2 separate regions of the Homo sapiens genome follow, and region 2 is linked to region 1. Evidence: fine-mapped expression QTL. A gene starts in region 1. The other region holds a variant in brackets. All regions are shown on one strand. Distances are between the middles of the regions. Region 1 holds the start of ASIC2 (acid sensing ion channel subunit 2). Region 2 has its middle 61 kb from the start of ASIC2.

The links.
Region 2: its variant is fine-mapped to the expression of ASIC2 in tibial nerve (GTEx, PIP above 0.99).

Annotation. Positions count from the first base shown.
Region 1 is chr17:33,290,349-33,295,720 of GRCh38, forward strand. It overlaps ASIC2 (acid sensing ion channel subunit 2), which reads right to left and starts at 2,947. Exons shown (of 10, transcript NM_183377.2): 1 at 1,060-2,947. The coding sequence starts at 1,767. RefSeq lists a silencer at 1,974-2,144.
Region 2 is chr17:33,351,831-33,357,202 of GRCh38, forward strand. It overlaps a transcript of ASIC2 not described here. Among named protein-coding and RNA genes, the nearest start is that of ASIC2, 61 kb to the left of the region's middle. The variant C/T (reference allele first, on the strand shown) is at 2,996.

The DNA.
Region 1 (5,372 bases):
CTACCAATAAACACACACACCAACCTTCCCTGCACTAGTGGAAAAGCCCAAACCCACCTAAGGGACATTTACACACGAATGGCTGGACAGGCATGCATCATGCTGGGGCCTGGCACCAGAACTCCTCCAAGGCAGACTGCACAAGGCAGATACCTTCTGTCCAACAGCTGCGTTATCCAGACCCACAGCGTGGGGGAACCGGCACAGCAAATGGTTTACAAACCCTAAGCACAGCTTCTCCTGGCCGCGGCTGTTTGCATCCACATGCCTGCTAGGATGCTTTCTCAACTCCGGAGCAATCCTCCAGACCAGAAGACCCACACTTACATTTTATGGGGGACGGAGGCCAGGTGAAGGGCCCAACCCTGGCGCACCACTGCTCAGTTCCGCTGGATGCTCAAGACTCCTGCATTTTGAAAAAGTAGCCAAAGCATGCTGCTGCCTCTCCCACCAAACTGTCTACAGCTTCAGTGTTGGTTTTCTGGGAGTTTCCTCACAAGTTCTCCTAGATTCTAAGTGTTTGGGAACTTTGAAGACATAAGCTGCTTCGGATCGTAGGCCTGCTTAGGGACTCTGCGTGATTCCCCTGATGATCCATTTTTCAAGCGCTTCCTTTTTTTTTTTTTTTTTTTTAAGAGCCGTCTATTGGTTTTCCCAAAGACAAGAAGTCCGCACTTAAGAGATCTACACTCCAAACACAGAGCAGTTTCTTGGAGTCCTGAGGGCCTGGAGTTGAGGTCGGGAAGAAGGAGGCTGACTAATATTCACAGACGGGACCATAAGGAGTAGAATGAGGGCTTTGGGGGCTGACACTGGAAGGAGGGGCTGGGACAGGGGAGCTCCCACTGGTGGGAGGCGACTCCTCCTACAGTTAAGTCCAAGTTCCCACAACCTGCAGGAGAAGACTCAGGGGACCCAAGAATGGGTTCTGCCTTGGCATCGTGGAGTGGTAACACTGCAAGAGGCCTGGGGACAGCCCCGAGGGGGCGGAACACCAGGCCTCCTGACTGCCGGGGAGTGGGGCGCAGAGGGAGCGGGTTCGCGCGGAGGGCAACTCACGGAGGAGAAGTTGTGCGGCCCGCAGAGCTCGCCGCGGTACTTGCAGGAGAGCAGCATGTCCTCCAGCTGGTGGCCCAGGCGGTCCATGAAGGCGGCGCTGATTCCCTCGAAGTGGCGCGGAGGCAGGAAGAGGCGGAAGTCCGCCAGCTTGCGGAACCACTGGCGGCGCGGCTCGTCGCCCCGCAGCAGCTCGCTGACAAGCGGGCGCGCGGTGCGGTTGGGCAGCAGCAGCCCGAGCCAGTGGCCGGCATAGTAGAGGTCCCCCTTGGAGAGGCGCGGGAAGCGCAGCGGGTTGTTGTTGCACACAGTGACGGCGGGGAAGGGTAACTGGCGGCTCCACTCGCGGTGCACCCGCGTGTGTGACGGGAAGCTGAGCCAGTAGAGCAAGCGGTTCGAGGACCAGGACAGCAGCAAGCCGAAGGATGTACAGAAGGCCAGCACCCACAGCGCCCGCCGCTGGAAGGAGCCCCCAGCCGCCGTGCGCCCGGCACACATGTGCCGCAGCCCGTGCAGTTTAGCGCGGCTCAGCGATGGCCGCCCCCTGCGGGCGACCCCTGGCCCCTGCAGCGCCCGCTCGCCGCCTCTGCCGCCCCCGGGCTGCCCGGCAGCCGCCAACGCCGCGGGCGCCGGCTCCTCGCGGGCCATGCGGAAGCGTCCCGGGCCGGTGAGCGCGGCTGCGGGCAGCCCGGCTCCGCCAATCCGGCTCATTCATTCAGCCCGCGGCTGGCGGCAGCGGCGGCGGCCCCGGCCGGGCGGAGCCGCCATGGGAGTCCGCAGCAGCAGTGGAAGCAGCAGCAGCGGCAGCCGCGCGCAGCCCGCGCCAGGGAAGCGTGCGCCCGAAAGGAGCTCCGGTGGCGCGGCATGCCCGCCCGGCGCCGCCGCTGCCGCCTCCGCGGGCGCCCGCCCGGGGCTGAGCGCCGCCTCAGCCCGCAGCCCCTGGCAGTGGCCTCTCCCGAGCGCCTCCCAGGCTTTCCCGGCCCCTGGTCTTCCTGGAGGATGCCCGGCGCCCGGCACTACTTCTGGAGGGGTCCCACTGGGAGCCGCCTCTCCAGTCCCTGGGTGCTGCGCCCGCCTTCCCTCGTCCTGGACCTCGGGGGACCCTGAGCCGAGTCCCCCCTGCCCCGCCTAACCCCAGCTTTTACGCTGGTCCTGGGAGAAGGGCCACTCGGCCACCATGCCTGATCTGGACATCCCCAGGGACCCCACCAGCCCGGCCCGTAGCCCAGCGGTGCTGGGACACGGGAGAGAAGGCGCCAAGGAACGAGCGCCCCCAGAGGCGCACCGCGGCTCCTGGCTGGGCGGGCGGGGTGGGTGTGTACGGGGGTGAGTGGTCGCCTTGCCGGCTGCCGCCTTCTTTCCCTTCCCCTCCAGGACCCTTCCTTGTTACTGCTCCCTGGGCTGCGCTCGGCAGAGACCTGCTTAGGCTTCCCCAAGTCCTGCGCCTAAGTCCTGCCAGGCGCCCGCTCTCGCCTGGGGCTGAGAGCTTCTCAGGGCGTCCTGCGGGAGGCTGTTCGCCGCCGGGGTCCTTCAAGGATGCTAGCCGCAGGGAAGTGTCGCTTCTCGCCTCGGCTCTCCCAGGTGCCTCGCGTCTCCAGAAAAGCCCAGCCTTGCTGTCTCTCGCGTCTTCTCTCTGCCCCCGCGGCGACAAGAGCTGGGGACTGCGGGGACCCGCCAACACCTCCCGGGGGTGACCCGGACTCGCTGCTCCGCGCGCCCTTCTCCTCTCGAGACTCCGAGCTCGCGGTGGCCGTGACGCCGGCTAAGCTCCTTCCCCGGTTGCCCGGGAGAACCCTCTTTGGGCCCCAGGCGAACTTGGGCAGCGGCCGCGCGACGCTGGCGCGGCTGGGCTCCGAGCACCTGCTCCTCAGCTCGCTGGCCCCGCGGCTCCGGGCGGGCGGGGCGGCGGCGGCCGTGAGCGCCGTGCGCTCCTGGAGACGCGGTGCTGACGCGCCCGGCTCCTCCTCGCTGCATTTTAATTCCTGGCCACTGTGGCCGCTGCACACCGAGCGGGAAGCCTCTTGCTGGAGTCGGCCGGGTGCGGGGGTGGGGTGTGGTGGGGAGCGGGATGGGGATGCGCTGTACAGATGTGCTCAGGTGTATGGGCTTGTGGGAGAGATAAGTAGTATAACCATTGTGCTGATGTGGCCCCAGTGTAGACAGGGGTGAGAGGACTCCTGAGGGTGTGAGATGGGCTGTAGAGAGAGCGAGTTGCTGTGTAGTGTGGGCATTTGAACACGATTGCGAGTGTGGTGCCAAGTATTGGGTGTGCGTAGGATGTGCATTGTGTATGTGTGAATGGGCATTTCTGTGAAACTCTTGAATGTGAGCATGTCTGCGGGTGGCGTGCTGTGGCCATTAGAGTGTGGTGCATGCAGGATGTAGTGTCTATGGTGACGTGTATGTTCCGTGTGTGTATGTGTGCACTTAGTGAGTCCTGGGTTTGAAATGCATGTGTTGATGTGTGGATGGATATCAGGGTTTCTAGATGTGGTGTGTGGTTGGTGTGTTTTGTGTGTGTGTGTATGTGCATGTGTTGTATGTAATGAGTATGTGTGTTGAGGCATTGCGAGCAGGGTAGGCTCAGTGCGACAATCCTCCCCTCAGCCTCTTAGGGACATCCCATGTGTGTCCCAGCCCCTTCCCTGGAAGTGCCTACTGCTCAGCCCTGGCCCAGTCTGCCAAGCACAGCTCTCCAAGAGGGTGGGAAGGGGGAGTAGGACTTCCAGGGACAGGAGACTCCATCTTTCCCATTCCCCTTGCTGGGACAGGGAACACTTGGAGCCCCATTACTCCATGAGATAAAGGGGTTTTCCAGACATTATCCGGAGAGTAGAATTTGGTGGTGGAGGCAGTGTGAAGGGACTCCAAGGGTGGGAGGATGCTCCAGTGGAAGAAGGACCAACGTGTGTATCCTTTGGGGAGAGGAGGCTTGGGGAAGCAGAGATTTGGGTGTGGAGAGGAGTTTTACCGTCTTTGTAATGATGAATTAGGGGCAATTTGGCCAGATCTGTTGAATGAGCTGTGGGTTTCCAAGCAGGAGAGAAGCAGTGCTGGGATGGGCTTTCCCTCCCCACTGACCTGAGGGCACCCTTACAGCGTGATGACTCCCTGCATCTGGTCTCTGGAGAAGAGGACCTCTGAGCCCCTCATTTCCCACTCACCCACATACATACATCCACACAGTCACACATGTACAAGCACACATATACACAAACACACACACACACTACACATACAACACACATATACATGAACATACATGTATACCAACATATACACTTAAATGCATATATACCCAATGCATACTGCATACATACATACACACAACACACATACATATACACAACACACACACACCTGGAAACCCTTCTCACTCATCTGGGGAAAAAGCTATTGCAGTTGGGCATTGATGACAGTTTGCTTTGGGTTTGGTTGCTTGAAGATGTCTGTTGCTGGCTTTGAGGGGAGGGTTCTGAAGCTGCCTGCTGTACTGGGGCCTCTACCAAAGGCTCATACTCCAGTGCTCCCAGCCTGGTCTCAAGGGTCCTGGAAATGCCACAGTGACCCGTGTCTTGGCCAAGGTGGGGTGACCTAGTGACCTCAGTGCAGTTACTGATGAAGCAACCAGGACAAGCATGTGCCATCTTCCAGCATCATAAATCTGGAGTGGCATGAAGCTCTATTTTATAAAAGCCTTTAAAACATTTTGGGTTTCTGATGTGTTCAGCTGTTGTGGGCTTGCTCTTTCCTAGCTATTTCCCCCTTGAAATGTACATGTGCTACTTTTGATTGACCAACTGTCTTCTCTGCCATGGGATTTCCTGTGAATTCTCCAGATGGTAGCTCTTTCAGGGAGAGGAGGGGTATCCTGCTTAGGCCTCAAGGGGCCTTGACACAGAAATCTAGAGAAAGACACACGGGCAGCTAGTGACTCCAAGCAATGATTGATGGCTCTCTTTATGGCACATGTATGCAGCACATTCTCTATGCAACTTGAAATACTCCCACCCTCTTCTCTGACCAGTTCTTTGACCAGCCCAGTGAAATTCTGTTCTTTCTTCAAATCACAGCTTATGCATTGCCTCCTAGGTCAAGGTTTCCTTGATTCTCCCAGACAAACTTGGGTCATGTTTTTCCTATGATCCCAGCATACCTTGGAAGATTGATACCTCTAGGATAGCCCTTATCATTGTTTGTGTCCAAGCCTTTCTGCTGGACTATGACCCGTTTGCAGACAGGGACTACACCTCCTTCATATTTGTATCCCTACCTCTTAGCACAGTGACCTAGCACGTTGATGAAACACTGTTACC
Region 2 (5,372 bases), 61 kb after region 1:
AGACATGTAGATGTGGCATGGAGTGCTGGGGGATGAGGATGGGGGAGTCGGAACCTCTTGGTTCTGGCCCTGCCACTCCCCAGCTGAGACTGTGTGAGCAGCAGCAAGTCTAATGACAGCTCAGGTTTTTAGCTGTCTTCTTCCTTCTGCATGCTCAGGACTCACCGCCTGTCTGATGTCTGCTCCTCAGCCTCCTAGATGGTCCTCCCCTTGAGTGTTTTGTCTTGTGTCTTCATCTCTTTGCTTCCTACTCCCTGGGTTAGCACCTCCACTCCCACAGCTACAAATGCCACCCCTCTGAGCATGGTTCCTCAGTCTCTATCTGTAGCTAAAATCTCCAACTTCTTCCATCTGAATCTCGACTTTACCTGGATACCTGGCAGGGACTTCAAAATCAACATGCCCAGAACTGAACTCACACTGCATCCCACTCCTTCCAGGTCACCCATCTTGGTGACTAGCCCTGTTCTCTCCTCAGGCACAATAGTCCAGATATCTCAGAAGTGCCCAGTGAGCCCCCTCCATGAGATGCACTTGAAGCCAGCCCATTACCCCCCAAGGCTGCCACCCCCTACATGGGAGGCCCTTCTTACCTTGTGCTTGCACCTCTTACTAATGATGAGGCCTGGGCTGACTAACATGGCTCTCCCTGCTTTTGTAAAATGAGAAGCTTTAGAGAAGATGATCTCAGAAGACCCTTCTGACCCTATCTGTCTTTATTTCAGTTATCATCCATCGAACTCTGTGGCTCAAAACCTTGCAATAGTCTTGACCCTGGATTGTCCAAACCACCCTCCCAACTTTGCAAGACTGGAGAAAATCCTGTGATGTTCTCCATGACTGACTCCTGCTGCCTTCCTTGCTGGCCTCCACACCACCCTCATGCTTTCAGTTTCAGTGTGCAAGGTGCATGCACCTCAACACTCAGCAGGTCCTCACGTTCACCTGCTGCCTCTCAGGCTCCATCCTGTGCAGTTTCTCTTCGGCTGTTAGAGTTTCTCTCCCTCTTTCCCTTCCTGGCCTTCTCTCATGCCCCTTACCTTCTCTTTCCCATGGTCTGTTGGGTGAACCCTCCCTCATTCTTCAAGGTTCAGATCAAGCCTCACTCTTCACAATACCCGACCCCAGAGCTAATATCTGTAGCACTGTTTCAGTAGAGATGCACCAATAACATTTACCCATCTGCCTCTCCACTGGATTCTGAGCTCCTTAAGCGTCCTGACTTTGCATTCCCAGAGCCCAGCACAATACTTGCACAAAATTCAGGTTCAATAATTGTATTGTGATTGAATGGCTCCCTAAATCTATAATATTCAATCTCATTAATTTGGCATTTTTAAGACTCTTTCCATTCCAGATCCACCAAACTGTTAGCTGTTTCCCTTAAAGTGCATTTTACTTAGACATTCACCCTTCCATAATCATGCACTGAACATGCCCATTGCCGTGGTGGGAACTTTTGACCCTCGACCTCTACCTGTCTCATGCCCATAAGTCTCTATCTATTCTTTTTTGTTTGTTTTTGAGACAGGGTCTTGCTCTGTCACCCAGGCTGGAGTGCAGTGGTGCAATCACTGCTCACTGCACCCTTGATCTGGGTTCAAGCAATTCTTCCACCTCAGCCTCCTGAGTAGCTGAAACTACAGGTATATGCCACTGCACCTGGCTAATATATATATTTTTAATTTTGTAGAAACAGGGTTTCACTATGTTGCCAGGACTGGTCTCAAACTCCTGGGCTCAAGTGATCCTCCTACCTCAGACTCCCAAATTTTGGAATTACAAGCGTGAGCCACCATGCCTAACCTTACCTTATTTATTCTTTAAGGCCCAGCCAAATGTCACTTTTTCCTCTTCCTATTCTGGATCCAGGAGTGACCTCTTCTTCCTAGGAGTCCCATAGGTCTTGGAACCATTTTTATGATCCTCAGTTCTTTGGGTGTTATAATAGAGTGATTCAGTCAATTAATTCATCTTTAAATACATGTTCTTCAGGGCTGCTCTGACCAAGCACAGGGTCTCCATCAAGGCTATACTTGCCATGTGTATCTTAGAGTATTAGCCCATTCTCTTGCTGTGAATAAAGACATACCTAAGACTGGGTAATTTATAAAGGAAATAGGTTTAATGGACTCACAGTTCCACATGGCTGGGGAGGCCTCACATTCATGTTGGAAGGCAAAAGAGGAGCAAAGGCATGTCTTACATGGTGCGGGCAAGAGGGCATATGCAGGGGAACTCATCTTTATAAAACCTTCAGATTTGGTGAGACTTATTCACTATCATGAGAACATCATGGAAAAGACCTGCCTCCATGATTCAATTACCTCCCACTGAGTCTGTCCCACAACATGTGGGAATTATCACAATTCAAGATGACATTTGGCTGGGGACACAGAGCCAAACCATATCACATGAGTCTCCTCAAGATCTCTACCAATGGTGGTTCATGACGGTCTTTAAATCCACTCATCCTCATGCTCTCCATCCCCACTATGAGCCCCCTGGAGGAGATCCCTCATCTCTCACCTGGACCAGAGCAATAGCTTCCTAACTGGTCTTCTCACCTCCACTGCAGCCAGCATGAAATATAACTATGCAAATGTGACCAAGCTATCCCCCACATAAGATCCTTCAGTGACTTCCCACTGCTCTTGGGATAGAGGCCTAAACCCTCAGCCAGGTCTATTCCACCAGCTCTCCCTGCAGCCCTACCCCCATGGCTTCCTGCTTGCTCTCTGCTTTCCAGCAGTGTGGTCCTTCTATGTGCTCTGGGTTCCTTCCCACTCCAGCCTGGGCCCAGGCTCTTCCTCTACTGGGAACATTCTTTCTTCAGCTTTCCCAGGGATCTGATGGGCCCCTACTCATCCTTCCAGTCTCAACTCAACATCACTTTTGCTCCTGGTTTCCACTCCTATGGCAGCTCCCCTGTTTATATGCTCAGCATTTATCCCAGTTTGTCAGCCTCCTAGGATGATTACTTGAAGGCAGAGCT[C/T]GTGTCCTTTTATTTACCATTGCCCTCTCCCCTCTGCCTCTGTCCCCACACATGTGCACCTATTTCCATGTCCAGCAGAGAGCAGGCACCCAGTACACATCTGCTGAATGCGTGCTGACATTCATGGGCTGCCCTTAACAGACTGGGAGCAGCCTGTGGGCAGGAGATGCAGCTTATTAATCTTGGTTGGAAACAGCAAGTTGTGTTGTGTCCATGTGTGTAAGTGTGGGTATGTGTATATTCGGAGTGCTAATTGGTGCCAGATAAAACAAAAAGCAATGTGGATCACCTGAGATCAGGAGTTTGAGACCAGCCTGGCTAACATGGTGAAACCCCAACTCTACTAAAGTTATAAAAATTAGCTGGGTGTGGTGGCATGTGCTTGTAGTCCCAACTACTCGGGAAGCTGAGGCAGGACAATCACTTGAACCCAGGAAAGGCAGAGGTTGCAGTGAGCCAAGATTGTGCCACTGCACTCCAGCGTGGACAACACAAGACTCCGTTTCAAAAAAGAAAAAGCAATGAAGCCCATGTACAGGAATGTGAGAATGTGAGAAACAGATTCAGAGAAGCAGTCTGGGGGTCAAAGCCCATCTGAGCAAAAAACAGTAAAGCAGTGCCTAGGTTTCCATTGCATAGTGTCCTGAGAAATTTTCTGGAGCAGGATTTGGCATGGGGGTGTTTAGATGGGGGCGGGGGCTTTAAAGACCCAGGCTCCTTCCTCCCTTTTGAATTTCTTAAATGCACAGCTTTTAAGATTGTAAATTATTTGATTGTAAGGAGCATATTTTATCTATCTTGGTTTCCTCTGTTCCCATAACAACCCTTGATAAATAGTAGAAGTTTCATAAATGTTTGCTGAATTGGATTGACTTTATCCTAATCATAGCCTGAGCCCTGGTAAGATCTGTTTATTCATTCAACATTTACTGTTTATCTACTATTCATTCATTCTTTCAACATTTTTTGCATACCTACTAATTGCTAGGCAATGGGGCTACAGCTGTGAACGAGGCAAAGTTTCTTGTTTGCTCAGAGCTTAAAGTGTAAGGGGAATTGAGACAGTATAATCAGTACTGAAGTAGGAATGATCAGGGGAAAAGGGATCCCAGAGAAGGGTAAACGAACCTAGACCTGGAGCTAGGGGTAGTGGTCAGGGAAGGCTTCCTGGAGGAAGTGACTTCCAAGATGAGGCCTGACAAATGAGTAGGAGACAACCCAGAGTAGGGGATAAGCGTGAAGAGTATTTAAGTCAGAGAAACAGCATGTGTAAAAGTTAGAGAACTCCACATCATTCACTGATTCACCAAGGCAGGTGTGAAGGATAGGGGTAGGGTAGCAGTGAGTGATGAGGCTGGCCCCTGAGTGACACCTGGCCTGATTATAGAAAGTGCTGGGCCAGGTACTTTAATTAATTCTTTTCTATTAAGGCTTCAGGACAACCCTATAAGGCATGGATCATCATTCCATTTTATTCAGATAGAACTCAAGAAAATTCAGGGGCTCAAGGAAGTTCTCCCAGTTGGTTAGCAGTGGGGCCAGGCTTCAGATCTATGTCCCAGGGCTTTCCCACCCCTGAACCACCTCCAGATTCTGAGGCTATGCAAGAGGAAAGGCATTCATGCTGGGCGGACATTGGACCAGAAACACAAGCACACCCCTCCCTGATGATGTGGGTGCAATCTGCATTCCTAGGCTCACTGGCTGGTCTCCACCATAATTACTATCTTCTGTGTGCCACCTGGATGGAGCAGGAAGGGGAACTAGAAAGGCCACCACTACAGACAGCACTTTTAACACGGAGCGTGTTAACCTCTTGTCTTAATAGTATTCAAATGAGGCCCCCAACCCAGTGCACTCAGGGCCAACACCTGGCTGCACAATTTGGATGGAGCGCCTCAGTCCCGAGGAGCATGAAGATCTCATTATGTAATTAGGTCTTTGGAAAATGAGCTATTATTCTTTGGCTCTGCAATCACGGGCTTGATGCAGCTTAGGGATCCAAGGGGATGCTGGGGGTGTGTGTCTGTTGCTCACTGCTGCTGCTGCATGAAGACTGTTACAGAGCAAGACATCTCCAGAACGTCCCAACCTCTGGGAGGAAGGAAGCGGGACTTCTTTCCTCATCTTCCAACAGGGAACAGCTTAGGGATTAGGGACCGTCTAGATCGGTGGTTCTCAAACTTCTTTGAGCATCAGAATCCCCTGGAGGTAGAGCCCAGCAACCTATGCTTTAACAGTTCCTCCAGGGAGTTTACTTCAGAAGATTGTAATTATGGTAGAGACCAGCCAGTGATCTGGGGACCGCACGTTGAGAACGGGGCCCTCTGGAGTAAACTGAGGCACCACCTAATCCCCAGCTTCCTCAGGAAGTCCC